4 separate regions of the Homo sapiens genome follow, and all the other regions are linked to region 1. The links come from fine-mapping of genetic effects on gene expression. A gene starts in region 1. Each other region holds a variant in brackets. All regions are shown on one strand. Distances are from middle to middle. Region 1 holds the start of TSC1 (TSC complex subunit 1). Region 2 overlaps TSC1 (TSC complex subunit 1). Region 3 overlaps NTNG2 (netrin G2). Region 4 overlaps TSC1 (TSC complex subunit 1).

Evidence for each region. PIP is the estimated chance that this variant, and not a neighbour inherited with it, causes the effect.
Region 2: its variant is fine-mapped to the expression of TSC1 in whole blood (TOPMed, PIP above 0.99).
Region 3: its variant is fine-mapped to the expression of TSC1 in visceral fat (GTEx, PIP 0.96).
Region 4: its variant is fine-mapped to the expression of TSC1 in whole blood (TOPMed, PIP 0.96).

The regions. Positions count from the first base shown.
Region 1 is chr9:132,938,345-132,946,595 of GRCh38, reverse strand. TSC1 (TSC complex subunit 1) reads left to right here and starts at 1,980. Exons shown (of 23, transcript NM_000368.5): 1 at 1,980-2,053. MIR548AW (microRNA 548aw) reads right to left here and starts at 889; the gene lies at 825-889. It also overlaps a transcript of GFI1B not described here. RefSeq lists enhancers at 1,263-1,402, 1,763-2,062, 1,375-2,108 and silencers at 1,583-1,662, 2,193-2,252, 2,313-2,372.
Region 2 is chr9:132,908,697-132,913,696 of GRCh38, reverse strand. It overlaps TSC1 (TSC complex subunit 1), which reads left to right. Exons shown (of 23, transcript NM_000368.5): 9 at 1,240-1,415; 10 at 2,129-2,244; 11 at 2,584-2,695; 12 at 3,005-3,126. Among named protein-coding and RNA genes, the nearest start is that of SPACA9, 32 kb to the right of the region's middle. The variant T/C (reference allele first, on the strand shown) is at 2,510.
Region 3 is chr9:132,243,431-132,251,681 of GRCh38, reverse strand. It overlaps NTNG2 (netrin G2), which reads right to left. Exons shown (of 8, transcript NM_032536.4): 8 at 7,156-8,251. Among named protein-coding and RNA genes, the nearest start is that of NTNG2, 85 kb to the right of the region's middle. RefSeq lists enhancers at 5,651-6,156, 6,157-6,662. The variant G/A (reference allele first, on the strand shown) is at 3,591.
Region 4 is chr9:132,891,621-132,899,871 of GRCh38, reverse strand. It overlaps TSC1 (TSC complex subunit 1), which reads left to right. Exons shown (of 23, transcript NM_000368.5): 21 at 2,262-2,449; 22 at 2,527-2,688; 23 at 3,118-8,251. The coding sequence ends at 3,637. Among named protein-coding and RNA genes, the nearest start is that of SPACA9, 17 kb to the right of the region's middle. The variant C/T (reference allele first, on the strand shown) is at 2,542.

The sequences.
Region 1 (8,251 bases):
TGTAAAGTAGTTTGCAGATTGGTGGAACTGAGAGAACCCAGACCCTTCCCCGTTTCCCTCGACCTTTCCATCTCTGGACCCCATGCAGACTATGCTTGGGTGGTGACACAGAAGAATTTAGTGTTTGGTGGACCCGTTTCTGGAAGTGATGGATGCTGACAGCTGGCACTTAACAGTTATCAAAAATAACATTAACTGGAGTAGGCTCTGTGCCACTTAGAGCTTAATGACTCACTGACTTCACCCCAAATCCCCATGAACTAGCATTATTATTAGCCCTATGTTGCAGGTGAGGAGACTAAGGCTCATCCAGTTAGAACATGATGGCTGAAACCTACATTCAAACTCTGGTCTGTTTGAATCTAGAACTCTTAGCTTCCCCCCAGCGACTGTGTTAGAACAGAGGAATCATCAGTTCAATTTTCACCTCCCTCCTAAGCCTTCGTGGCTCTAGACGTATGGTTATAAAGGTTGTTCACTGCTCAAGGGCCCAGGAGGGTTTGGGGCTGGTGGATAGGGGCCAAAATACAGCCCAGGGGTGCCATTTTTCTAATTCTCACCAAGGCCCTATACTGACTAGCAGCGGCTCTACCCGATACCATCCAGGGCCTTTTCAGAATTCTGAAGGCACCCACGGTGCTGGCTACTCACACACCTGGCCCCCCTTAACCATGGCTGCCTTGCACTGTGACCCAATTGGTTCCCATGACAAAACCTGTTATTCCCATAACTCACCCAACACTTTTTTGCCCCTAGGCTCTTGCTCCTTTGGTTCCCTCTGCCTGGAATGGCCTTCTCTCCCGAGCCGCCTCGCCTGGTTCTATTAGGTTGATGCAAAAGTCATCGCGGTTTTAATGGTAAAAACCGTGATGACTTTTGCACCGACCTAGTATTTCACAAAACCTACATTTCCTTTAAAACCCAACCTGATGCCTACTCCTTCAAAATGCCTTTCATATCCCACAGTTCGACTTCATCTCACTCTGCCTCCTCTCACAGGGCTTTGTGTTCGTGCTGGATGGAGCCCATCATACTCAGCCTCGCAATAAAGGCCACCTATCTAGTGAGTGAGCATTTACTAGGCGCAGGACTCTGGGCTAAACGCTGTCCATACTTCATCTCCTTGATTCTTCACGTCACAGATGTCATTATGCCCATTTCACAGAGGAAGAAACTGAGGCTTGGAGGACTTAAAGCCTTGTTTCAGCAGGAAACGGAATAAGGCGTTCTGATTTTCAAGCTGTCTCCTATTAGGGCTGGTTTCCCCTAGATGTCATGAGTAGGTGTGAAGTGTGAGCTACTTGAAGGCAGAAGCCAGGGGGGTCCCCCGCAATCCCGGAGGCGGGCTTCTGAAAATGTTTAGCCCAGGAAGGAGGGCTGCCCTGGCCCGCAGCTTTCCGCCCCTTCCCAGGTGAGCTGCAACTCCAAAGCTCCCAAGCAGGCCCTTCACCCACGCGGGCCCCAGCAGCTCCTTGGGAAACAGGATCGCTGCTCTGAGGCCGCCCACAGAGAGACCCTCGGAGGGCGCCACGCAAGCGAAGGGCAGAAACGACTCGGGGGGCAGGGGCAGGGCGCTCCAACCACACCCAGGCGCCGCCAGCTTGTTTACGCCTCTCCGCCGCGTCCCCCCGCCCGCCAGTCACGTGACCGCCCGCCCCGCCCCCTCGGGCTCTCGCGTGGCTCCTCCCGCCGCGCCGGCCCTTCTTTTTGCCTCCTTCGCGGAGTCACAAGATCTCTTCGCAGCCTCCTTTCGGATCCTTCCGCCCGGCCCCGCCCCCCTCCATAAAAACCCTCCTTACTTTTTTTCTCGTCCAACCCACATCGTCAGTTATGAGTGGAAGAGCCTCTTCCTTCCGGCGGGGCTGCCGAGCGCGGCCGTCTATCCTTCCTTTCGAGAAGGAGGGGAGGTCCGGAGGGGGACTCTTTTTCGTGGCGGAGGCCGCCGTCGGCCTTGGCCCTTTCACGACGGGGGAGGTGCTGTACGTCCAAGATGGCGGCGCCCTGTAGGCTGGAGGGACTGTGAGGTAAACAGCTGAGGGGGAGGAGACGGTGGGTGAGTATGGGGGTGTCTCCCCCTCCTTTTTATGGGGGCTTCCTGGGGCAGCCCCGGCACCATGACTCCAGCCGGGGAGGCTCGGAGGGGCTGGAGCAAGAGACTCACTTGCTTGGTAGGGATCCCGGGGAAGGGGGGTTCGGAGAGCTCTCCCCTCCCTCTTATTACACGCTATCTCCGGCTGGCCCGGCCGGGACTGGCGGGTCCCTGGGGAGGAGAGGCGAGCCGGACGGAGCACTTCGCCCCTCCTTGGCCCCCGAGGGGACGGCTGCACCCTGGGCCTCGGTCCCTCGGGCAGGGGCGAGGTGGGCCCCTTCGTCAGTCCCTCACTTGGTGGGGTGACAGGTTCACGCTAGGTGCGGAGGGCAGGGTAGAGACGCTTGGCGGGAGGGGAAGGGTCGCGAGGGTGGGGCTGGTCCCAGAACTTAAAGAGAGGGGTCGGGGTATAGGGGCGTGGAGAATGAATGGAGGTCGCCTGTGGGGATCAAGGACTCGCCTGGATTCGGTGTCTCCGCTGAAATTTGCATGACTCGCTCTGGGTGTACTTGTGGGTGTTTAATTGGTGGTGAAAGACAGTTACCTTAAAGTGGGCAAAGGGGATTCCTAAGAGACAGCTATTTGCAGAGCCCCTCCTAGGCGTTCATTCATTCATTTGAGGAACTGGAGGATGAAGAGCCTGCAATCGGAGGGACCTTGTAGAATTAAAGCTCTTTCTTTGTGTTTCCTGTTAAAGAGTTTTGCTTTGTGTGTTTTGGATGTGTGGTGAGGACTTGGGAGGGGACGCGGTCCTCCTAAGAACAACAGCTAACGTTAATGGAGTGCTCTCTGTGTGCCAGGCACTGTGAAAGTGCTTGGCAGTCATTATCTCCTTTGGTCCTCACGACAAAGAGAAGAGGCAGCCACTGTTAACACCTCCAATCTTCTCAAATGAAGAAACTGAGGCCCGGAGAGAGCAGGGTACTTTGCCTAAGTTCACACCCCAATTGTATCTGAGCCAGGACTGGAACTGCTGGGATCTGACTGACTCCAAAGATATGACTCTTAAATTTATCTGTTATTTGATCAAAGCTGGCCTGTAAGTGATTAAAATTTATCATTTAGCCAAGGTTTATGCACGTGTGTCTGTTTAATGTTGAAGTGGGGGGATGCACTTGGCTTATCCGCCTTAGCTTTTGTTTGGGATGGCAGTGTTGTGCATGTGAACTTGTTAGTCTAAATTAGGCTAAAAAGTATTTGATAGTTTAATAAAACTGATGAGTTTACTGAAGAAAGAAGTCCTGCTAAAATCCTTGCTGGCTTTTTTTTTTTTTTAAATAGAAAGCATACAAATAACACTTCACGTTGCATAGAGTAAGCTATAAAAGTGCTAAAATAGAATAATACTCTTCTGAGATACTTTGATTTATAATTTTGGGATCAACTTGGAGTCATCTGAATTCAAACAGGCCGGCAAAGTGGAGCTGTAAATTTCAGGAAGCATTATAAAACCTAATCTTTGGGGAGCCTTTGATTTACCGAGCAACCACCTGTGATTCTTAAATTGAACATTCCTGAGTAAATCTGGAATATGCAAATGTGAAAACTGATTTAGGGTTGTGTAGGGAAATGCACCTTTAACAGTCATGCATCAGGCAAATGAGGCTCCTCAGAAACAGTGAAACATTCTTTGCTATTGCCCTAGGGAGCTGCAGAATCTTCCTCTAACCACCTGGTGTAAACTTAAGGGGTATTTATAGAAGATGTAAACGGAAAATATCCTCTTACTAAAGTTAATATCTTATCCAAAACACTCTTATATCACGTGCCTAGAAGGGCAGATGATGTAAACTTTCTCTGCTGCATGCATTTCCTGGTGTCATAAACACTTGGTACGTTCCTAAATTCCTGGTTAGAAAGCAGGTGGCTACCAGCCTTCTTGTTTCCATAAAATTAGAGTGCTTCAGGTCCTGTGACTCAGTTGTCCTCTTCCTCACTGGGTTAAGAGTAAAAACTGATACTGCTACTGTTGTGGTGTAATATGATGCCTTCTGTGCATGCCTGGTTTCATTCGTGAGATGAAACTTAACAGTCTTACTAGGGCAAATCTAATATATACCTCTATATGTAATGTTTGCAGAATAATGAACTTGGTGGAAACGAGATCTGAAACCCTAGTGCTCATGAGAACCTTGATGTACAGATATTTGGCACTATACTAGGTAGACCTACATATTCGGACACCTTGTATATATATTTTGGAAGAAGACTGATTCTTATGTGCACCGGAGGTTGAGGACCACTGGCTTCAAGTATCATTCTGGCTATTTTCATTTATTATTTATCACAGAGGTATTTCTTAAAATAGCTTGTAGCCTTTTATTTGTGTAGTGGTGGGTGAATTTTGGGCTCTGAATTAGAGCTGACTTGTTCTTATAGCTCTGTCTTCATTTGAAGTTTGTTTGGCTACAGGTATGTTTATTTCTGGGTTCCAGGGCCATAGTGAACTAAAATTAGCTTTTCCTGGAATTAATTGGATATTCTTGAATGCCGATGAGCCAAATATAGCAATATCTCAACCATTTCAGGCTTTTCTAGAGAGTCAGATAGCTTTTGACCTTCAGTGGGTCACTTAAGTTCTGTGAGCCTGTGTCTTCATCTGTGAAGTAAAAGTTGGAATGTAAATTAATGAGTATTTCTAGGCCTACATTTCTGTGATTTAAAGTCCTTTGGGGTGTCATTTAAATATTCTGACTAAATCGATTGAGTCAACCTGTTAATGGTTTTATAAAAACCAAGCAAATTGGTGACTTTGAGCCTACCCTGTTGGGTGAAGATCTGTTTATCATTTATCCTTTCCTTTACATCATAATACTCTTTGAAAAGGTAATTCCCTATAAGTTTCCCATATTATAAATCTCTGAAAGGTTAGTCTTTGCATTGGTTTTGTCATTTAAGTAGCTGAAGGCGTGAAAGAAAAGTGTACTTAATAGCGTTAAAATCTGTGGCTGTTTGCTTGAAATGTGTATATGTAGTATACACTCAAACACTGAGTTTGTTTTTTTTAATCTCAGATCATGAATTGGTAACTAATATAATTTGGGTAGCATGAAATACTCATTCTCCATTTAAATTCATCTGAAAGAGGTAAACTGTCAGCAGTTTGAGATTATTCTTTCTCTGGTTTACTTTTTAAGACTGTAGTTGCTAGAAATTAGTAACTTTATGTCTGTTTTCATGGGAGAGAATAAAAATGCAAATTTTATATACTGTGTATAAAATACACTGTCTCAGGACCTTGTCAGTTTCTTCTTGTCCTTTCTCTCGTTCAGTGCTAACTTTTATTATGAACATGGAATCAGCAAAAGATAACAATACTTTTTACGGTTGAATGAATTCAGATTTACATCTAATAAGTAAAATGTCTTAAAAACCATGCTTTAGTCCAAAATAAAGCATAGTAGTTACTGCCCTACAACTCACAGGTCACTCTCTTAAGTAAATATGATGGCAGTAGAGGCCCAGAAGTGTTGGAGTAACAAAGGACAGTTTTGCCCTTCTGTGGGTGATGTGATGGAAGACACAGAGGGGAGCTGTAGGAAGAACAGAGGCAGTGACCTTAATGTCTGCAATCATTAAGACTCTGCTACTTTGAGTAGTTCACAGAGCATAGTAACAAACTTGAACTGTATCCATTTTAAGTTATACAATGGTTGTATCAATGTTTCAAATACCAGTTGTTAAATGGATAGACTGCTAAGCATTATGTACCCAGCAATCCATTTTTGTGAAGTAGTAATATTGTTATAATAAAGTTTATATTTTTTGAGTACTCATGTGCCAAACACTGTGGTATTTTACATGTCTGATACCCCATTAACTTCTTACAGCCTTAAGAGGCAGGATAGGAAGAGGAAGCAGGCTTAGAGTAAGTTGCCTATAGTCACTTATTCAGTGGCTAAGCTGGGATATGAACCTTTTTGGTTGACTCCACAGCCCAAACATTTAGTCTTCCACTGTGATAAACTGCTTCATCTGCTGACCTCATAAATTAACTCACAGGTCAGGTCAGTGGTTCTTAACTTTGGTGGTGGTGGGAAGGTGTGTGGACTCAGTTGCCCTCTGAAAATCTGTGGGAAGCTATGGACCAAATTTCTCTTCTACCCTTTATGTCCCATCATCACCAAAAAAATTCATACAGACATGGGATTTTGGATATGGCTTCAGGTAATTTATGGACGCAGCTTGAAACCCAGCTGATCATTTTAGATAGATTACTGCTCTAAAAATGGACTTAGGCTTTATTAAAAAACTTTTTTTTTTTTTTAACTAGTAGTCAGGAAAGGCCCAAGTCAGAAGGTGGCCTTATGTACTGTCTGGGTTATAAATTACTTTGTTAAATTTCTGTAGTGTACCCAGGTATGTAACCTGCTACGTGCTTGTCAGGCTTGGCATTCGGTCTGTGCTGGTACCTTTAGCACCTGGCAGAATTCCACTGGGCCTTTTCCCCAAGGTTTATGCACTCTATATATTTTTTTCCTTTTGAACCTCAAAGGAGGTATATTAATGAATGAATGTTTTTTACCTTCATCCTTCTTTTTCCTAGACCAGTGGTTCTGAACCTTTAGTGGACGTCAGAATTACCTAGAAGGCCCCACCCCCAAAGTATCCAATTCCGAGATCTAGTGAAAGGCCTGAGAATTTACATTTCTAACAAATACCCAGGCTCCTGCTCGTGGTGCCAGGACCACATTTTGAGAACCACTGCCCTAGACTATCAAACTATACCCTTCTTCCCTAGAATACTTCTATTTTGGTCCTATAAACCTGAAACCTAAAGATATCTCACAGTTTGCTTGTATCTCTTTTAGGAGAAGCTCTGCGTAGTGTCTTTTTGAAATATACATGGTATCTGTTTGGCCTGTATTATCTTAGTAAATAATGTTGTTCATGTTAATAGAAAGTCAAAACGTAAGCATTATTTATTGAAGAGATACGCCTTACCAAAATTAAGCTCTGGCCTTACACTTAAGTTACTAGAAGATTCTTCACCTTTGGGATAGGCTATAAGCTTTAGCAAACCATCCATCAAGGCCCCTGATGGCAGAAATTCTGAATGGAGAATCTGGCAAGTTGGAGCTCTCCTGCCCCAGTTTGTCCTTGAGAGGGACTCCAACTACTAAGACCTATTCAATCACACATGACTACACATGTTGGCAGGTTTTACCATCAGCTGTTTTACTCTCACATAGTAAGTAGTTATTTCCTACCCTTTTTTCCTTCCTTCTAGGCACTGATAGGAAGAGAGAATGGGAGCAAGTATCTTACCCTTTTTAGATGCATTTGTGCTGAAGGCGTCTTGGTTCACTTGATAGAATATTACCCTAAGAAGTCACCTGAGAGTTCCTGAGCCAGAGCGGAACATTAACTTAACAGTGTAACATTTCTGCTCTATCTAACTGTACCTGATAATAAAATAGTCTATCCATGCCTGGACCTGTGTCTGAATTGTCCTTGAATTTTTATGGATAAAAAATTGAATATAGGAAACAAGTTATAGTGAAGAGACATCTGCCTTCATTTACACATGCAGTACATTTTTACATCATAGACAAATGTGTACAAAATTATCTTAGGCAAATTGATATGCGGTCACCTATTTTATGTTACATACAGTCCTGAGGAGTCGTAGAGGGTAGTGTCTAGGCCACATATCACAGCACTTGTTTTTGAAAAATTCGAATATTCACCTGTAATTTCAGATAAATCCATTCTAAAGACATCTTAGGTATCTGCCACTAGTATTTTCAAAAGGTTTGTGTGTACTCTTGGCTCTCTCACAGCTCATAATGCATCTTGGCTAGGGCAGAGATATGTGAAAAAAATGGCGTACGGGTCCTGCTAATGACAGCTGTCCATGGCTGTTAGGCTAGAGTTCATGTGTAATCCTAGGCATATAAGCCATCCGTCTGTAAACACCTAAAGAATGATATTAGTTAAGATGAACAGTGAAAACAGATTGATCTATGTGCCTTCTGTTTCATCTCAAAATACTTAAACACAGAGCCCTTATCTTCTTCCTCAAACCTACATTTTATTCAGAAAGATTGCTTATAGAAGTGAAGTTATAATGATGAACATAAGTGAGAACACAACTTTTGGGTCAAATATGAAAGGGAAAAAAGTCTAGATCTGGAGGCAGGTTTCTTTTTAAATTTGGCT
Region 2 (5,000 bases), 31 kb after region 1:
CCGCCACCGCGCCCAGCTAATTTTTTGTATTTTTAGTAGAAACGGGGGTTCACCATGTTAGCCAGGATGGTCTCAATCTCTCGACCTTGTGATCCGTCCGCCTCAGCCTCCCAAAGTGCTGGGATTACAGGCTCACTTCTGTATGTACGTCAAGACATACAACAGTGTTCAGCACAGCACAGCTTGTAATGGAAAGAAGAAATAACCCAAAGTTCAACCAAAGGGTTATATTCTATAGAATAACTATTATTACACCCCCTGAAAAAGCATGCTTTTAGCAGATCGATAGTTGCAAGAAGTGGGGGAAGAGACTCACCACAAAGGGCACAAAGGAACTTTTGGGGTGATGGACATGTTCTTTATTATGATCGGGACTTTTGTCAAAACTTAGCAAGATTGACTAATTTTATTGTAAGCAAATTATGCCATACTAACACGTTGATTTAAAAAATCATGCCTTCAGCTGGGCATGGTCATGGCTTATGCCTGTAATCCCAGCACTTTGGGAGGCCAAGGTGGGAGGATCATTTGAGGCCAGTAAGTTCGAGACCAGCATGAGCAACAAAGTGAGACCCCATTTCTGTAAGAATATTAGCCAGGCACGGTGGCACGTGCCTGTAGTCCCAGCTACTTGGGAGGCTGTGGCAGGAGGATCCCTGAGCCTAGGAGTTGGAGGTAGCAGTGAGCCACGATCATGCCACTGTCCTCCAGCCTGGGTGATAGAGTGAGACCCCATCTCAAGAAAAAAAAAAAAAGAAAAAAATTCTCATGGACTTTCTTTAGTTTGTCTTTTTATACTCTGTTTCTGGTCCAGGGATGGATTTGACACCTGAGGCCTTGATAGGAGACCTTAAGTCAGCCTCAGCTGCTTGGCAGTCTCCAGGTCTCCCTATTTTTTGATGACCTTTGTTCCAAAGGACATTTTTCCCTGCCTGCTGCTCTGCTGCATAGCTTATGTTTCATTTTTCCATTTTGAGGCTACACCTAGTCTTTTGTTGAGGAAATATTTGTTTCAGATTAGCTTGTAAACTTGATATAACCATTTTAAACAGGGAAGGTATAGGATTGTAAAATGAATGGCTATTTCTTTATGTACTAGAATTGTTTCAGACTTGGGCTGGCATGGTCCCGCTTGTTCTTTGCTATCAGAGTTCCGTGGCTGGCACTGAGTTGACACTCTGAAGTATTTAATTCAGTTGATTACAGTTTGCATTTCTTGACTTTCATTGCATTTTACAGGTGGAAGAGATTAGAAACTCATGATGTTGTGATCGAGTGTGCCAAAATCTCTCTGGATCCCACAGAAGCCTCATATGAAGATGGCTATTCTGTGTCTCACCAAATCTCAGCCCGCTTTCCTCATCGTTCAGCCGATGTCACCACCAGCCCTTATGCTGACACACAGAATAGCTATGGTAAAAAGTGTCTTTGGTACTTATCTGTTTTGCAACTTTGTCTCTGGAAAACATTATTTGTCTTTGTTGATTTTCTTTTCTGGAGTAAGACTTAGTTCAGTTCCTAGGGATTTTTCCCAAAATATCTTAAATTTGCATGTCCCTCCATTTTCTTCTAATTAATTTCTCCTTCAAGTTTAATTTAGATGTCCTTGGTCTGCTACCTGATTGTATGCCAACAGAGTTGGTGACGTGTCTCCAACACTTAAGAAAGAAAATGGGTTTAAGTATTTGACTTCCAGACTCTACCTCATAAGGGAATCTTTCTGATTTTCAGACATTTAGAGTGAGGCTCTTGTGTCTGTAGCACTGACACAGTTTGAATGAGTCGGAACAATTTAGAATTGGATTCATATAAAAATCTAGGCTTTATTTGTGGGTTGCAGCCACTGAAGTTGTCATCTGTATTGTGCTTTTTTAAGTTATCTTGAGGCTTAATGAGACATCAAACCTTATTGAACTTTATTTCAAAGGAGCATTTAGAGAAACTCTGAAGTGTTACTTTGTCCCCAAGGATGTCAGTTAAGTCCCTCAGATTTTTTAGGTACAGAGAATTGAATATTATCAAATGGTCTAGAGGACCATCTTTTTTTTTTTTTTTTTTTTTTTTTTTTTTTAACCAGAATAACCTAAAACCACACACTAACCCCCTGTGTTCTTCTCTTCCATTTTAGGGTGTGCTACTTCTACCCCTTACTCCACGTCTCGGCTGATGTTGTTAAATATGCCAGGGCAGCTACCTCAGACTCTGAGTTCCCCATCGACACGGCTGATAACTGAACCACCACAAGTATGGTGTCAACTAGTGTGCCTGCTCTCTCCTCTGCTTTCTGGTGAAGCTGACCCTTTGGGTCAGATTTAGTATGTGGTTGGGAAAATTTCACACTGCTCATTTCAGGAGTCACTTTTAAGGATCCATGATATTAGCAAAGAAAGTTACTGTTGCCTCTTAGATTCATCTTGAAGTCTTGATTTACAAAATGCAACTTGTTTCTTGATACGCTTTTAATAAGATGCCTTTTTCTAGATGAAAAAGCTAAATTTAAGCTGAACAC[T/C]GGCCATGGATATAAACCTCGTGGATGACTTAGCATTCCTTTGCCACTGCTGATGTACTTTATTAACTTCCCAGGCTACTCTTTGGAGCCCATCTATGGTTTGTGGTATGACCACTCCTCCAACTTCTCCTGGAAATGTCCCACCTGATCTGTCACACCCTTACAGTAAAGTCTTTGGTACAACTGGTATGTATGTCTTAGGTTGGATTTGATTAGTTGGTTTTGGCCTGCCTTTAATGGCAGGAGGAGCTCTCTTTTAGATCTAAGGGACCACTTGCTGTTGTAAACTTGTTTTTGACACTTATTGCAAATCCCTGGGGCTTTCAGAATGTGTAAAGTGAACCTAAAAACAAAAAAGAGAGAGACTGATCTAGATCCCCAGAAAGTTAACTCTAGCAGCTTTATTTATAGTAATAGTTATAGGCTGAAAAAAAATCGGCAGTTTTTCTAATAGTTGGGCTCAGTGTTCATATATGTTCTGCCCTTGTCTCTAAGCAGGTGGAAAAGGAACTCCTCTGGGAACCCCAGCAACCTCTCCTCCTCCAGCCCCACTCTGTCATTCGGATGACTACGTGCACATTTCACTCCCCCAGGCCACAGTCACACCCCCCAGGAAGGTGCGATCCAGCTCGTCTGCTATCCCTCTGCCCAGGCACAGTGACTCACTTGCAAGCCTCACTTTGAGAAGCCTAATTATGCCAGATAGAATTCTGACCTAAAATGCAATGGGTTTGAATCAGAATAATTGAAAATGGACTAACAAGCTGCTCTCAAGGTGTGATCTGCCGACCCCTGGGTGGTTCCAAAACTCTGCTTTGGCAGAACTCTTGTGGGGAACCCAGCAGGTCAAACCTACTCTCTTGATTTTTTTTTTTTTTTTTTTTTTGGAGACAGGGTCTTGCTCTGTCGCCCAGGGTGGAGTGCAGTGGCACGATCATGGCTCACTGCAGCCTTGACCTCCCAGACTCATGCAATCCTCCTGCATCAGCCTCGCTAGTAGCTGGGACTACAGGCATGTGCCATGATGCCTGGCTAAGTTTTTTTTTTTTTTGGTGGAGATGAGGTCTCACTATGTTGCCCAGGCTAGTCTTAAACTCCTGGACTCAAACGATCCTCCTACCTGGGCCTCCCAAAATCCTGGGATTACAGGTTTGAGCCACCACACCTGACCAAACCCACCTTCATAGTAACACTAAGCTGTCATTTGCCCTTCCCACTGCATTGGCATCTGCAATGATGGCACAAATACGACGGGGGGTGAAATGGTGGCAACTTAGCCTGAATCAAGGCAGGCATTGAAGTGTCCTATCCCAAGAGGCCTTGCATTCTTCCCTGACATCTTCTCTCCATTAAAAACAATAAAAACTAAAAAATTTTAAAAGTTGAGTGTTCTGTATTAAGCAGTAACCATTATTAATTTTATTAAATCTTAGCCCTTGAGAACATGTATGTGTAATATTCTTCGTGGCAAAATAGAAAATATGCATAAGGCACATGTACTGCATACCAGGGTATGATGGTGACCTCTGGCCCTCATGCAGTTATTTGAATTGAGAGGTGAAGTAGCTGCCTTTTTTCATGGAATGCCAGTTTTATTTGAAAGAACTGCTGTCTTACAAACTGGTTATTCAGACTTGGGTGTTTGGCAGGCAGCTTCTCAAATGATGAGCTGAGTCTGTCACTTCAAGATAAACAACTGACAGTATTTGTTGCCAACAATAAAAGTCAACTCTCAGGTGGAAATCAAGATATTAAAAAACGTGTATATACTACCATGAACTTGATAGCTGCCCCAGGACTTTTATGATGAGACCGAAAAGTCTGTGGAAGCTTAGTTAGTAATTTGAGTTTTTGATATTGTATAATGAAGTGTTTCAACATTTGGAATATTTGAATAGCTTGAGGAGCCAATATTTTCAGAGTGTCCAATGTATGATACGTTGCAGAATCATGCATAGGTAAAAAGTACATTCAAAGTACAAAGCAGGCTGGGCGCAGTGGCTTACACCTGTAACCCAGCACTTTGGGAGGCTGAAGCAGGTGGATCACTTGAGGTCAGCAGTTGAAGACCAGCCTGGCCTACATGTTGAAACACCATCTCTACTAAATATAGACATTAGCCGGGTATGGTGGCAGGCACCTGTAATCCCAGCTACTTGGGAGGCTGAGGCGGGAGAATCACTTGAACCCAGGAGGCGGAGGTTGCAGTAAGTCGAGATCACACCACTGCATTCCAGCCCCAGCCTGGGCAACAGGGCAAGACTGTCACAAAAAAAAAAAAAAAAAGTGCAAGGTAGACTAGTGGGTTTTAACACAGGAAAAGCTCATTGATGTGGTTTCAAATTTCACTTTGTAACTTTAAGAAACTAACACTTATCAAATTTTGGTGTAATAACAAAGATGATTATTTGAAAAGTCTGTCAACATACGTTTACTTTTTGCGGCTGGGCGTGGTGGCTTGCTTCTGTATCCAGCACTCTGGGAGTCCAAG
Region 3 (8,251 bases), 690 kb after region 1:
AGAATTGGTCCCCATGATTTTAAAGATAGACAAGGTAGTTGTCAATGTTTGAAAATCCAAAGGTTGACATTAAACTTGAGATTTCTGGTTTTTCTTGAAACATCTAGAGCAGGGGTCCCCAACCCCCAGGCCACAGACCAGTACCGGTCCATGGCCTGCTAGGAATGGGGCCACACAGCAGGAGGCGAGTGGCAAGTGAGCATCACTGCCTGAGCTCCACCTCCTGCCAGATTCATAGGACATGAACCCTATTGTCAACTGTGCATTCAAGGGATCTAGGTTGCATGCTGCTTATGAGAATCTAATGCCTGATGATCTGAGATGGAACAGTTTCACCTGAAAACCATCCCCCACTCTGATTATTTATCGGAAAATTGTCTTCCACGAAACTTGTCCCCAGGGAAATGCTGATCTAAAGAACCAGCAACACCAGGGCTTACGTCCCCCTGACACGTCAGTCTGAACTGAGGCTGCTTCTCACTCAAGACTTCCCTTGGCTGCCCCAGTGGCTGGCACAGGGCTGTCCAGCGTGGCACGCACAGCAGTACACATTTGCCGTTGGCCAAGCAGGCAGCTGGCTGGCTGGGGGTGGGCCCAAATGTCTCCACTCATAGGTTTCCTGCTACCCCAGAGCTCTGCCCCTATGTGCACCATGGGACTGTGGGTATTTGTGGCCGGTCTTCCAAGAGGGGTCACAGAGGCTGCCTGATAGCTTCTGTGGCCCCAGGGGGCCCCAGGAGGTGAGGCTGGGTATCTCCAGCCCTGCTCAGGGCCTCCCCAACCCCGCCATGGGCTTAAGGGGCGTGCCCCCCAGAGCCTGCACACTCCTTCTAGGCCACCCAGGATCAGAGCCTGGGTAGGGTGACTGGTTGGGGAAGCCAGGCCCAGCCACCCCACCACGTGCTGGCCACAGCTGGAGGAGTCCAAGGGTACAGATTTGAGCCCAGCCTTTCAGGTCACTGTGAAGGGATTGCTTGTCTAGGACTGGCTGAACTTTATTCAACAGCTTGATGGGCGGCTTTAAATATCCAGACACGTGGTACAGGAGCCTCCATCTGTGCTCTTGTCCTAGCCCTGGAAATGCAGGGGGCGCCGTGTTGACACCCAGAGGTCGGGATCCTGGTCTCCGGGGTTAGCGCTGCCTGGCTGTGTAAAACTCGAGTCACAGGTCTCAAAGCCACCCCGTCAAAGGCATTGTCCAGGCCTGTACTCCCCAGCACTGCAAGCCTGGCCTGGGCTGTGGGGGCCACCAGGAGCCCCGTCCTCAACTTATAGGCCCATCTTCTCCACGGGTCCCTTGCAGGCTCAGCTTCTTGGGAATTGGCCCTGCCTGGCCCTCATGTTCCTGCTGGGCCAAGCCAGGGGGCCCATGCGTCCTTTCTTGGGCATGGGGAGACCTCTGAAGGCAGGTGGCACAGTCAGCTGTGCCTGCTAGAAGGGCGCTGGAAACTCCATTTCCTGGTTCCCAACTGTCCCATTCACGCCCCACCTCCCCAGTCCTGTGAGCCTCCCTCTGCCCTCATCCCCTACCCCCCAAACAACCCCATCCCCAATCTTAAGCCCTCTGTGGGCAGGAGGGGAAAGGGGAAGGAGGTGTCCGGGTGTTTGAGGAACAGGCACCGAGGTTTCTGGGGCCTGCTGAGTCAGGCCGGGCTTGGCCAGGTGAGGGTGGTGGGGTGGGCAGGGGCTTCGGGAGTCTTCCTGGTCCTTCTTGTTGGCACAAAAGCTTGGGCCCCTCTGCAGATTACAAAGAATCTCAATCCTGCCTGGTGTGTAAGGCAGGTGGCAGCGAGGGGCCCACCGGGAGCTCCGGGAGGGCAGAGCCTGTGTCTGTCTGGTTCACTGGGCCAGGCTGGTCACGTTGAGGTGCTCAGGAATATGATGAGTGAGAAAGGAGGTGTGAGTGAGCCTGAACCCTCCTAGCAGGTTTTGGGGAGGGGGCACAGAGGAAACAAAGCAATCACAGCAGCTGACACTTAGGGATGGCTGACTTGGTGCCAGGCCCTGTTCTAAACACTGCGCGGCTCAACTCATTCACTCCTCACAACGGCCCCACCCTGCAGGCGCTATTTTTAACATCCCCATTTCACAGATGAGATGGCCAAGGCACAGAGAGACTGAGGAACTTGCCCAAGGATGTATAGTTGGCAGGTGTGGGGTACAGCTTCAAGCCCAAATCAGGTTCCAGAGCTCACCGTCCTTCTGCCTGAGGAGCTGCCCTCCCCTTCAGGGGCAGAAATGCGGGCACTGGGTCAGCAGTGAAAGGCACGAGCTCCCAGGACTCTGGGCCTCACTCCAGCTACTCCTGGCTGGGTCCCAAGGGCCACCTGCTCCATCATCCAGGGAGAGAGCCTCTGGCTGGAAGCCATCTGGAGCACTTTGGCCGCAGGTGCCTCCACCTGGCCGCCCCTGTGGGGCAGCAAGGTCTCCTGTGCCACCAGGAGCACAGGCACTGGGCCAGACCCTGAGGTGTCAGAAGGGTACATGGCAACCCCCTGCCCTGGGAGCCAGAGTCCCACTGCCAGCCGGCCCAGGCTGGGAGGGGAAGAGGGTGAGAGGCTGGGCAAAAAATGAAAGGTGGGGCTTTGCATTTCTTTTTGTTTTTTTTTGAGACGGAGTCTCCCTCTGTCACCCAGAGGAGTGCAGTGGCATGATCTAGGCTCACTGCGACCTCCGCCTCCCGGGTTCAAGCGATTCTCCTGCCTCAGCCTCCCGAGTAGCTGGGATTACAGGCACCTGCCACCACGCCCAGCTAATTTTTGTATTTTTAGTAGAGACGGGGTTTTGCCATGTTGGCCAGGCTAGTCTGGAAGTCCTGACCTCAAGTGATGCGCCCGCCTTGGACTCCCAAAGTGTTAGGATTACAGGCATGAGCCACTGTGCCTGGCCTTGCATTTCTTTTTTCTTTTATTATTATTATTATTTTTGAGATGGAGTCTCACTCTTGTCACCTAGGCTGGAGTGCAATGGCATGATCTCAGCTCACTGCAACCTCTGCCTCCTGAGTTCAAGCGATTCTCCTGCCTCAGCCCCCTGAGTAGCTGGGATTACAGGCACCTGCAGCCACGCCCAGCTATTTTTTATATTTTTAGTAGAGAAGGGGGTTTCACCTTGTTGGCCAGGTTGGTCTCGAACTCCTGACCTCAGGAGATCCATCCACCTCGGCCTCCCAAAGTGCTGGGATTGTGGGCGTGAGCCACCACGCCCGGCCTCTCTTTTATTTTAAAAGGCCTCCTTTGATAGTCTAGATACAGTGCTAAGTTTTATATAGCAGGCTAAAGAAGGATGTGTATACGATGAGGCCATTGTTGTTAAAAATAAATAAGATAAATAAATAAAGGGAAAAAATAAAATAAAAAAAGGTGCAGGGCTGTGCAGCCTGCCCAAGAGAGTGCATTTGAATCCTGGCCTCTGGCTCTTCCTGGCTGTGCGACCCCGGGCAACTTACACACCCGCTCCGTGGTGGACATTCTTTCTTTGTTTTCTTCCTCTGGTTGAGGAAACAGAGCCCACCCCCCCTTGCTGGAGTGGCAAATGCTGGACTGGAGGGTGCGGGTGCGTGGTGGGGGCTGTGGTGGGGAGGCCAGCAG[G/A]GGGTAGCCCTGGGGGTGAGGGATGTGCCCAGGGCAGCGCCCAAGGCAGCATCTGAAGCTCTGGCTCTCCAGCCACCCTGGGCGGGATACTGGGTGCCCTTCCTGACTCCACTTTACCTCCTCTTTTTTGTTTTTTTGTTTGTTTTTGAGATGGAGTTTTGCTCTTGTTGCCCAGGCTGGAGTGCAGTGGCACAATCTCAGCTCACTGCAACCTCTGCCTCCCAGGTTCAAGCGATTCTCCTGCCTCAGCTTCCTGAGTAGCTGGGATTACAGGCATGCACCACCATGCCCAGCTAATTTTGTATTTTTAGCAGAAACGGGGTTTCTCTATGTTGGTCAGGCTGGTCTCGAACTCCTGACCTCAGGTGATCCACCCACCTCAGCCTCCCAAAGTGCTGGGATTAGAGGCATGAGCCACTGAGCCCAGCTGTTTGTTTTTTTGAGACGGAGTCTTGCTCTTTGCCCGGGCTGGAGTACAGCGGCGTGATCTCGGCTCACTGCAACCTCCGTCTCCTGGGTTCAAGGGATTCTCCTGCCTCAGCCTCCCAAGTTGGGGGGGGGACTATAGGCATCTGCCACCACACCCAGCTAGTTTTTATTTTTATTATTATTATTTTTTTGAGACGGAGTCTTGCTTTGTTGCCCAGATTGGAGTGCAGTGGCGCGATCTCGGCTCACTGTAACCTCCACCTCCCAGGTTCAACGGATTCTCCTGCCTCAGCCTCCCAGGTATCTGGGATTACAGGTGCCCACCACCACGCCTGGCTAATTTTTATATTTTCAGTAGAGACGGGGTTTCGCCATGTTGGCCAGGCTGGTCTCGAACTCCTGACCTCAGGTGATCTGCCTGCCTTGGCCTCCCAAAGTGCTGGGATTACAGGTGTGAGCCACCGCGTGGCCCACTTTCCCTACTCTTACCTTGTTCTCCTGACATGTGTCTGAGGGGTCTGTGATCCTTTAATCTCCTCTGCCTCTTAAATCACCTGGTGTTTTGTTTCGGTGCTTGTGGCTAAGGTCCCTGGCCAGGACGCTTTCAGAGCCCTGGTATGTGGAGCTGTAAGATGGCCATATTATATTAATTGATCCCACGCTCAGCATCACTGAAGGGACCCTTGAAATAAGGCATGTCCAGCCTCAGTGCTAGGGCTTAGCAATTGCAGGGGTGGGGGGCGATGTCTGAGTGTGGGTTTTATTTTATGGAAAAACACTAGAAATATCTATCAGAAAACATTAACAGTTATGCTGGACGTGGTGGCTCACACCTGTAATCCTAGCACTTTGGAAGGCTGAGGAGTGAGGATGGCTTGAGCCCAGGGATTCGAGACTAGCCTGGAAAACATAGTAAAACTCCGCCTCTACCAAAAATATGAAAAATTAGCTGGACGTGGTGGTGCACAGCTGCAGTTCCCCCTACTCCAGAGGCTGAGGTGGGATGATGGTTTGAGCCCAGGAGGTGGAGGTTGCGGTGAACCGAGATCGTGCCACTGCACTCCAGCCAGGGCAACAGAGCGAGACTCCGTCTCAAAAAAAAAAAAAAAAAGTATTAACAGTTATTAGCTCTGGATGAAGAATTGTGGGTGAGTTTAATAGAAAAATTATTATGATTTTGCTTTTCTGTATTTTCGAACTTTCCTACAAGTTGTGACAGGTGGTTTAAACGGAAAAATAAATAAGTAATGTTTTTCTTCCTGGGGCCTTTCCCTTAACTCTTCTGGCTGGGATGTGCCGGGATGGACCAGGCCCCTGGGGAGACAGGGAGGCGGGCTCAGGTCTGCCGGGAGATGCTGCTGGCTGCTCCCCAAGCTCCCATAAATGCCTCGTAACTGTAAGGCATGAGCTGGGCAGGAAATGCCGACGCAGCAATTCTGCTTATTTAGGGGAGTGGGTGGGGGCAGGGGACAGGCCATGCTGCCGCAGAGGGCCAGGGGAGGCGTTTCCCCTGACAGCAGAGCGGTTCAGAGGAAGCTGGGCTCCCCAGGGTTCCTTGCTCAGCCTGACCTGGCTGTGGGCGCCAAAGGAGGCAGGCAGCTGGAGGCATGGAGGTGGGGGGGCAGCTGCAGCCGCCCGCCGGGGAGTGGATGCCCAATGCCTGCCCAGGGCTGCCTGGCCTGGGGGTGAAACACTGGGCTCTGGAGTCAGGCAGCCCTGGGTTCAACTCTCCTCTCTGCTTCTTAGAAACTGTGACCCCAGGCAAGTGACTTTGCCTCTCCCAGCCTTCACTTACCCTCTGTAAAATGGGCATGACCATCCTTTCCTCCTGAGGCAGCGAGTCTCAATCTAGGACGATTTTGCCCCCAATTTGGCAATTACTGGAGGCACTTTGAGTTGCAACAACTGGGGACGGTGCACATTGAAGTGCCACATGGAAGCCAGTGATGGTGCTGCACATCCCACGTGCACAGGGCAGCCCCCACGCCCTACCATGGAGAATTACCCAGCCCCCCAGGTCAATGGTGCTGAGGCTGAAAACCTTGCCCTAGGGTGCAGGTGAGGGTTGATGCAGTAATGTAAGCGCAGCGCCTGGGGATGCGGTGATGATGATCCAAGGCGCACAATGGGAGCCTTTTCCTCCTCACCTCCCAGAACCAGGTGTCAAAATATGAGCTCTGGGGACAAGGGTGTGCCATTTGAAAAGAGGATGGCCTAGGACTTTTGGCTCTGCTGACCTCGTTTTCTCCTCCTGCTGCCTGGAAGATGTCAGAGTTTTTCCAAATGGCCACTGGCAACATTCCCTCCACCCTCCGGGGAGGTCAGGGCCTGAGTGTGTCCCCGGGGACTGGGGCTGCCATTCTGATTTACAAAGAGCTCCACCTCCCCAGCCCTGAATGCACAGGCCGGTGCCAGAAAAGCTGACGCAGTGTGGGCCCAGCTGACGGAGGTCAAGGAGGACAGAGTGACTGCCCACAGAGGCCCCCCACCTCCCAGACCCCTCGAGGGTGTTCGGGGACACACCCAGGGTGACATAAAGAGGCATGCCCTCTGCACCACCGTGTGGGCCTCTTCACAGCCCCCAGCCGCCCACCTTCTGCACCAGGGGCTTCTACTGCAGCCCCCATGCCAGCCTGGCACTGGTGCCTGACAGAGGGTGGCCCACTTGCCTCCAGACAAGAACAGTGCTGGGATGTCATTGACGCTCCAGGGCCCCCAGCCTCGTGGATCCGGCCAGGGCTGGCCACTGGGGCTGGGCCCTGCTGTCCCTGTCTCAAGTTCTGCCTCTAGTTCTGCTTCTAGGTGACATTTTATCATCTTGATGACTAGGAGGAAATGCCTGCTGTTTACCGACTGCGGCCAGCGCTGCTGTTTCTCTGGGGTGAGTTCTGCTCAGCTGCCCTGTGCTCACTAGAAGGCAGGGGCAGTCCTGTTCTGGACAGAGGTGGACTCCTCGGCCTGAGTCATGGACATTCCTCTTCCTGGTGACTTGAGGGTCACCATGGGGGGCTGCGGCCAAGGAAGGGTGGGTTTCAGTCTCTCTCTGGCCTTAGAGGGCTCAGGGGGCCCGGATGCCAATCAGGCAGGGCCAAGAACTTGGAAAGTGTGCATGGAACAGAAAACCCAAATTCTAGTGTTTTAATCACATCACCGTTTATTTTTTTTCTCACACAGTAAGACAGGCAGGTGGTGCGGTGGCTCATGCCTGTAATCTCAGCACTTCGGGAGGCCAAGGCCGGAGGCTCACTTGAGCCTAGGAGTTTGAGACCAGCCTGGGCAACATAGTGAGACCTCAACTCTATAAAAATAAGTAGATAAATAAAAGCAGTGCAGAGGTTGCAGCCAAGGCAGGTGTCCCAGGCTCTGCAACTTCCACCCCCGGCTCCACCCTTCACTATCCTGAGGGTGACACTGTTATGCTCAGTGTCTCAAGAAGGCTCCTTCCCCATCCTGCTGACTGAAGAGCAGAGGGAGGGATGAGAGAGAAAAACCAGAGCCACAAACTTGGACAACTGAGGCTTTGTGGGGCGTGGAGGAAGGGATGACTTTTAAGAACTTTCTGGAAGCCCACCCATCAGTCCTGCTTACATCTCACTGCCCAGAGCTGTGTCCCCTGGCCACTCCTATCCACAAGAAGCCCCAGAGAGGTGTTTTATTTTATCTGGGCACTTTGGGTCCCAGGCAGTGGGGTTCTGTGCGTAAGGAAGAATGTGAGGGTAGAGATGGGCCAGCTGCAGGAGGATGCAGGGCCTGTCGGAAGGCACTTCCGGGTCAGCAGGGTGCTGGGGGTGGGAGCAGAGAGAGGAGGCCAGGAGGGGCTGGTGTGTGGGCTCGGGACACTGTGAGTCCTATGCAGTGTCCCGTTGTGCCTCCCCCTCCTTTTCTGTGTTGTAATCTCCTGCTGTCCCCAAGGCCAAGTTTGTTCCACTTGGTCTTAGCTTAGCTTTGGGGACTCAAGGGAAGGACCCAGGTCTAAACCTCGCAGCTGGGAAAGAACAGGTGTGGTGGCAGAAGCCAGTGCTGGGAGCACCTGCAGGTGGAGCAGTGGCAGCAGTTAGCAACCAGGACCGGACCCCCGGCACTGCTCTGAAATAAACATAGGTGGACAGGAGGCTGGACCGAGGGGGAAGTGTGGCCCCAGGGCTGGAGACACCAAGCGGAGATGGGAGAACTGCTGGATCCTCTGAATCAGAGGCCCCAGGGGATGAGCCCCGAATCTAGGAGCTTCCTCA
Region 4 (8,251 bases), 47 kb after region 1:
AGAAACAGATCCGAGGCACAAGAGAGCTCCTGAAAAAGCTGCTGAAACGTGCCTGGGCCATCTCCTGAGAGAAGCCTAGATGGGCGGCCTCCAAGGAGTCCTTGTGCTGTTTGGGACCTTGAGTAGCTGCCTCTCCATGGGGCCCTGTTTCCCAGTTCATAAAACGGGTGATGCAGCTGAGTTGTGATAGTCAGGATGCCTTCAATTGTAGACAACAAAAACCAAACTAGGGCTGGGCACGGTGACACATGCCTACAGTGCCAACTATTTGGAAGGCTGAAATAGGAGGATTGCTTGAGCTCAGAAGTTCTAGACCAAGCCTAACAATATCCAAAAAAACAACAAAAACAAAAAGCACTCAACTGGCTTAACAGTGAAGAACTGTATTGTTTCACTTGACAAGAGGTTGTGAGGCAGGTGAGTTCCAGGTTGGTCAAGTTGGCCATTCAGGGACAGCATCGAGGAGCCAGGCTCTTTCCACTCTTCTGCACTGCCTTGCTTATCCTGCAGACCTTGTCTTCCAGCTAGCTGCACTCATGGTTGCCAGGTGTGTGCCACAGGCACAGATATGACAGGCAGACACAATGATGTCCCCACAGAAGAGGAGAGCATCTCTTCCTATTCCTCAGCAAGAAAATCTTTCCCAGGCTGGACGTGGTGGCTCATGCTTGTAATCCCAGCACTTTGGTAGGCCGAGGCGGGTGGATCACGAGGTTAGGAGAACGAGACCATCCTGGCGAACATGGTGAAACCCCGTCTCTACTAAAAATACAAAAAATTAGCCAGGTGTGGTGGCGCACACTTGTAGTCCCAGCTACTTGGGGAGCTGAGGCAGGGGAATCGCTTGAACCCCGGAGGCGGAGGTTTCAGTGGGCCGAGATCACGCCACTGCACTCCAGCCCGGTCAACAGAGCAAGACTCTGTCTCCAAAAAAAAGAAAAGGAAAAGAAAACCTTTCCCAGATGATCCCACCATACTTCTCATCACCCCTGTTGGCCAGGCCTGTCCTGTGCCCATCCCTAGCCTAGTCATTGCCTCAACCCAGTCAGGATTTGCTCCTGAACCTGGAGCTAGGGTTGCTCTTGTTCCATCCAAAGGAGGAGGAAGAGTGAGTGGTGGGGAATCAGGTGGGAACAGTTGGTAGGGGTAGCTGTAAGGATTAGTGAGAGTGCACGGATGTTCCTGGTTCAATGCTTTGCATGATTATCCATGAATAAGTCCTGTTGTTTATGACGAAGGCCAGATAGATGCGTTCATCCACCCTGTGCTGAAGTCGAGCCATTTAGCACAGCTGGAACAGCCGCATTATCCGAGAGCCAGTTCTGAGTTTCAATCAGTTGCGTTCTATAACAAGGAAGCATTGGGCTTACCAGACAGCATCAAGGCAGGGCGCCTTCGTGAAAGCTCATCTCCTTGCTGTTTATGGTTTATTATCTTTTTTAAAAAACAAATATATGGCAAGTTTTGTGTTTTGTATATTTTACCACGGTAAACATACACACACAAATGTAACACAGGCTTAAAAAAATACCCTTTCCGCCTTCTTTCTGAGCATTAGTGTGTACTTGCTCTGGGTTTCAAGCTGTTCCAATCTGTCGGCAGCAGGCCATCTGCCTTAGCACGATCAACAAACCTTGTCAGGGCATCCAGTCTGCAAAGGCTGCTTTGCTTGAGCAGACCTGCTCCATTGGCATTCCATTCTGTAGCCTCACCTGCGCTATTGTCAGGAGGGGGAGAAAAGGAGAAAGGAAAGCAAGTGACCTGCGGTACCACTGGACTGAAATGATAACTGGATAGTGGCGTATTTTCACTTGGTGTTTTGTATATGTATATGTTCGCATAGTTGATTGTACTATTCACACAGTCTTGTAGTCTGCTTTTTAATCTTTTTACTGACACCATATCATTTTTTAAAAAGACTTAGAAATATAGGATGTATTTTAATTTACTTAACTGTTCCCCTGACATTAGACTTAAACGATGTTTCCAGGTTTTTGCTCTTATAAATATGCTGTGATGATTATTTTTGTGCAAAATCTCTATTTATGTTTCACATGATTTGCTTGGGGATAGATTTCAAGGAAGGGTTACTAGGATAATACTACCAGCTTACTTTCCATAAAGTTGTACTAGTTTATATTTCTGTTATCAGTATACTAAAATGCCTTCTCAGTCCTTCTTACATTGTCTTTTCAAAATGGATACAGCATGTTTATTTTTTATAAGTACTAATTCCAGTCTTTTTTTTTTTTTTTTTTCAGGAAGTAGAAATGATGAAAGCCGCCTATCGGAAAGAGCTAGAAAAAAACAGAAGCCATGTTCTCCAGCAGACTCAGAGGCTTGATACCTCCCAAAAACGGATTTTGGAACTGGAATCTCACCTGGCCAAGAAAGACCACCTTCTTTTGGAACAGAAGAAATATCTAGAGGATGTCAAACTCCAGGCAAGGTAACTTTCATCAGGAAAGGCTTTTGTGTTTTTATTAAGTGGAACTTCCTATATTCTGGCTGGTCTGTATCTTTCAGAGGACAGCTGCAGGC[C/T]GCAGAGAGCAGGTATGAGGCTCAGAAAAGGATAACCCAGGTGTTTGAATTGGAGATCTTAGATTTATATGGCAGGTTGGAGAAAGATGGCCTCCTGAAAAAACTTGAAGAAGAAAAAGCAGAAGCAGCTGAAGCAGCAGAAGAAAGGTAGGAACAAAGAACTGATTCATGACCTTGGGACTAAGCTGCCAATTCCAGCATAAGGACTGTGTCACGTGGTGTGGGAAGCAGTTACTGCTGACTAGACAGGCTGCAACACTCAGCTCACTCCGTGTCAGAGACCCACTCTGACGTTCCTTTCCTCAAAACGCCCAGTGATCTCTTCGTGTTCGTGTTCCTGGCCTTGAGTCCCTCCATATGGCCACAGGAAGTGTTCACACTTAAGATTGCCACCTACTATCCCTAGTTGTGATTTAGGTTTCTCTTGATGAGATCTCTTGAGTCCAGTATTATAAAACAGAGAGTGGGCTAGCGGAGTTCAGTGTCAGTGTGAGTGAGTGTCAGTGTAATTCCACATCCTCCGAATGTGGACAGTCCAATCACCAGCTCCTTTTTTCCTCCCCGGCTTTCTTACAGGCTTGACTGTTGTAATGACGGGTGCTCAGATTCCATGGTAGGGCACAATGAAGAGGCATCTGGCCACAACGGTGAGACCAAGACCCCCAGGCCCAGCAGCGCCCGGGGCAGTAGTGGAAGCAGAGGTGGTGGAGGCAGCAGCAGCAGCAGCAGCGAGCTTTCTACCCCAGAGAAACCCCCACACCAGAGGGCAGGCCCATTCAGCAGTCGGTGGGAGACGACTATGGGAGAAGCGTCTGCCAGCATCCCCACCACTGTGGGCTCACTTCCCAGTTCAAAAAGCTTCCTGGGTATGAAGGCTCGAGAGTTATTTCGTAATAAGAGCGAGAGCCAGTGTGATGAGGACGGCATGACCAGTAGCCTTTCTGAGAGCCTAAAGACAGAACTGGGCAAAGACTTGGGTGTGGAAGCCAAGATTCCCCTGAACCTAGATGGCCCTCACCCGTCTCCCCCGACCCCGGACAGTGTTGGACAGCTACATATCATGGACTACAATGAGACTCATCATGAACACAGCTAAGGAATGATGGTCAATCAGTGTTAACTTGCATATTGTTGGCACAGAACAGGAGGTGTGAATGCACGTTTCAAAGCTTTCCTGTTTCCAGGGTCTGAGTGCAAGTTCATGTGTGGAAATGGGACGGAGGTCCTTTGGACAGCTGACTGAATGCAGAACGGTTTTTGGATCTGGCATTGAAATGCCTCTTGACCTTCCCCTCCACCCGCCCTAACCCCCTCTCATTTACCTCGCAGTGTGTTCTAATCCAAGGGCCAGTTGGTGTTCCTCAGTAGCTTTACTTTCTTCCTTTCCCCCCCAAATGGTTGCGTCCTTTGAACCTGTGCAATATGAGGCCAAATTTAATCTTTGAGTCTAACACACCACTTTCTGCTTTCCCGAAGTTCAGATAACTGGGTTGGCTCTCAATTAGACCAGGTAGTTTGTTGCATTGCAGGTAAGTCTGGTTTTGTCCCTTCCAGGAGGACATAGCCTGCAAAGCTGGTTGTCTTTACATGAAAGCGTTTACATGAGACTTTCCGACTGCTTTTTTGATTCTGAAGTTCAGCATCTAAAGCAGCAGGTCTAGAAGAACAACGGTTTATTCATACTTGCATTCTTTTGGCAGTTCTGATAAGCTTCCTAGAAAGTTCTGTGTAAACAGAAGCCTGTTTCAGAAATCTGGAGCTGGCACTGTGGAGACCACACACCCTTTGGGAAAGCTCTTGTCTCTTCTTCCCCCACTACCTCTTATTTATTTGGTGTTTGCTTGAATGCTGGTACTATTGTGACCACAGGCTGGTGTGTAGGTGGTAAAACCTGTTCTCCATAGGAGGGAAGGAGCAGTCACTGGGAGAGGTTACCCGAGAAGCACTTGAGCATGAGGAACTGCACCTTTAGGCCATCTCAGCTTGCTGGGCCTTTTGTTAAACCCTTCTGTCTACTGGCCTCCCTTTGTGTGCATACGCCTCTTGTTCATGTCAGCTTATATGTGACACTGCAGCAGAAAGGCTCTGAAGGTCCAAAGAGTTTCTGCAAAGTGTATGTGACCATCATTTCCCAGGCCATTAGGGTTGCCTCACTGTAGCAGGTTCTAGGCTACCAGAAGAGGGGCAGCTTTTTCATACCAATTCCAACTTTCAGGGGCTGACTCTCCAGGGAGCTGATGTCATCACACTCTCCATGTTAGTAATGGCAGAGCAGTCTAAACAGAGTCCGGGAGAATGCTGGCAAAGGCTGGCTGTGTATACCCACTAGGCTGCCCCACGTGCTCCCGAGAGATGACACTAGTCAGAAAATTGGCAGTGGCAGAGAATCCAAACTCAACAAGTGCTCCTGAAAGAAACGCTAGAAGCCTAAGAACTGTGGTCTGGTGTTCCAGCTGAGGCAGGGGGATTTGGTAGGAAGGAGCCAGTGAACTTGGCTTTCCTGTTTCTATCTTTCATTAAAAAGAATAGAAGGATTCAGTCATAAAGAGGTAAAAAACTGTCACGGTACGAAATCTTAGTGCCCACGGAGGCCTCGAGCAGAGAGAATGAAAGTCTTTTTTTTTTTTTTTTTTTTTTAGCATGGCAATAAATATTCTAGCATCCCTAACTAAAGGGGACTAGACAGTTAGAGACTCTGTCACCCTAGCTATACCAGCAGAAAACCTGTTCAGGCAGGCTTTCTGGGTGTGACTGATTCCCAGCCTGTGGCAGGGCGTGGTCCCAACTACTCAGCCTAGCACAGGCTGGCAGTTGGTACTGAATTGTCAGATGTGGAGTATTAGTGACACCACACATTTAATTCAGCTTTGTCCAAAGGAAAGCTTAAAACCCAATACAGTCTAGTTTCCTGGTTCCGTTTTAGAAAAGGAAAACGTGAACAAACTTAGAAAGGGAAGGAAATCCCATCAGTGAATCCTGAAACTGGTTTTAAGTGCTTTCCTTCTCCTCATGCCCAAGAGATCTGTGCCATAGAACAAGATACCAGGCACTTAAAGCCTTTTCCTGAATTGGAAAGGAAAAGAGGCCCAAGTGCAAAAGAAAAAACATTTTAGAAACGGACAGCTTATAAAAATAAAGGGAAGAAAGGAGGCAGCATGGAGAGAGGCCTGTGCTAGAAGCTCCATGGACGTGTCTGCACAGGGTCCTCAGCTCATCCATGCGGCCTGGGTGTCCTTTTACTCAGCTTTATAACAAATGTGGCTCCAAGCTCAGGTGCCTTTGAGTTCTAGGAGGCTGTGGGTTTTATTCAACTACGGTTGGGAGAATGAGACCTGGAGTCATGTTGAAGGTGCCCAACCTAAAAATGTAGGCTTTCATGTTGCAAAGAACTCCAGAGTCAGTAGTTAGGTTTGGTTTGGTTTTGGACATGATAAACCTGCCAAGAGTCAACAGGTCACTTGATCATGCTGCAGTGGGTAGTTCTAAGGATGGAAAGGTGACAGTATTACTCTCGAGAGGCAATTCAGTCCTGGGCAAAGGTATTAGTACAATAAGCGTTAAGGGCAGAGTCTACCTTGAAACCAATTAAGCAGCTTGGTATTCATAAATATTGGGATTGGATGGCCTCCATCCAGAAATCACTATGGGTGAGCATACCTGTCTCAGCTGTTTGGCCAATGTGCATAACCTACTCGGATCCCCACCTGACACTAACCAGAGTCAGCACAGGCCCCGAGGAGCCCGAAGTCTGCTGCTGTGCAGCATGGAATTCCTTTAAAAAGGTGCACTACAGTTTTAGCGGGGAGGGGGATAGGAAGACGCAGAGCAAATGAGCTCCGGAGTCCCTGCAGGTGAATAAACACACAGATCTGCATCTGATAGAACTTTGATGGATTTTCAAAAAGCCGTTGACAAGGCTCTGCTATACAGTCTATAAAAATTGTTATTATGGGATTGGAAGAAACACGTGGTCATGAATAGAAAAAAAACAAACCCAAAGGTAGGAAGGTCAAGGTCATTTCTTAGATGGAGAAGTTGTGAAAGATGTCCTTGGAGATGAGTTTTAGGACCAGCATTACTAAGGCAGGTGGGCAGACAGTGACCTCTCTAGGTGTGTCCACAGAGTTTTTCAGGAGAGAAAACTGCCTGACCTTTGGGACTAAGCTGCGGAATCTTCTTACTAAGCTTGAAGAGTGGAGAGGCGAGAGGTGAGCTACTTTGTGAGCCAAAGCTTATGTGACATGGTTGGGGAAACAGTCCAAACTGTTCTGAGAAGGTGAACTGTTACGACCCAGGACAATTAGAAAAATTCACCCACCATGCCGCACATTACTGGGTAAAAGCAGGGCAGCAGGGAACAAAACTCCAGACTCTTGGGCCGTCCCCATTTGCAACAGCACACATAGTTTCTGGTATATTTGTTGGGAAAGATAAAACTCTAGCAGTTGTTGAGGGGAGGATGTATAAAATGGTCATGGGGATGAAAGGATCTCTGAGACCACAGAGGCTCAGACTCACTGTTAAGAATAGAAAACTGGGTATGCGTTTCATGTAGCCAGCAGAACTGAAGTGTGCTGTGACAAGCCAATGTGAATTTCTACCAAATAGTAGAGCATACCACTTGAAGAAGGAAAGAACCGAAGAGCAAACAAAAGTTCTGCGTAATGAGACTCACCTTTTCTCGCTGAAAGCACTAAGAGGTGGGAGGAGGCCTGCACAGGCTGGAGGAGGGTTTGGGCAGAGCGAAGACCCGGCCAGGACCTTGGTGAGATGGGGTGCCGCCCACCTCCTGCGGATACTCTTGGAGAGTTGTTCCCCCAGGGGGCTCTGCCCCACCTGGAGAAGGAAGCTGCCTGGTGTGGAGTGACTCAAATCAGTATACCTATCTGCTGCACCTTCACTCTCCAGGGTACATGCTTTAAAACCGACCCGCAACAAGTATTGGAAAAATGTATCCAGTCTGAAGATGTTTGTGTATCTGTTTACATCCAGAGTTCTGTGACACATGCCCCCCAGATTGCTGCAAAGATCCCAAGGCATTGATTGCACTTGATTAAGCTTTTGTCTGTAGGTGAAAGAACAAGTTTAGGTCGAGGACTGGCCCCTAGGCTGCTGCTGTGACCCTTGTCCCATGTGGCTTGTTTGCCTGTCCGGGACTCTTCGATGTGCCCAGGGGAGCGTGTTCCTGTCTCTTCCATGCCGTCCTGCAGTCCTTATCTGCTCGCCTGAGGGAAGAGTAGCTGTAGCTACAAGGGAAGCCTGCCTGGAAGAGCCGAGCACCTGTGCCCATGGCTTCTGGTCATGAAACGAGTTAATGATGGCAGAGGAGCTTCCTCCCCACTTCGCAGCGCCACATTATCCATCCTCTGAGATAAGTAGGCTGGTTTAACCATTGGAATGGACCTTTCAGTGGAAACCCTGAGAGTCTGAGAACCCCCAGACCAACCCTTCCCTCCCTTTCCCCACCTCTTACAGTGTTTGGACAGGAGGGTATGGTGCTGCTCTGTGTAGCAAGTACTTTGGCTTATGAAAGAGGCAGCCACGCATTTTGCACTAGGAAGAATCAGTAATCACTTTTCAGAAGACTTCTATGGACCACAAATATATTACGGAGGAACAGATTTTGCTAAGACATAATCTAGTTTTATAACTCAATCATGAATGAACCATGTGTGGCAAACTTGCAGTTTAAAGGGGTCCCATCAGTGAA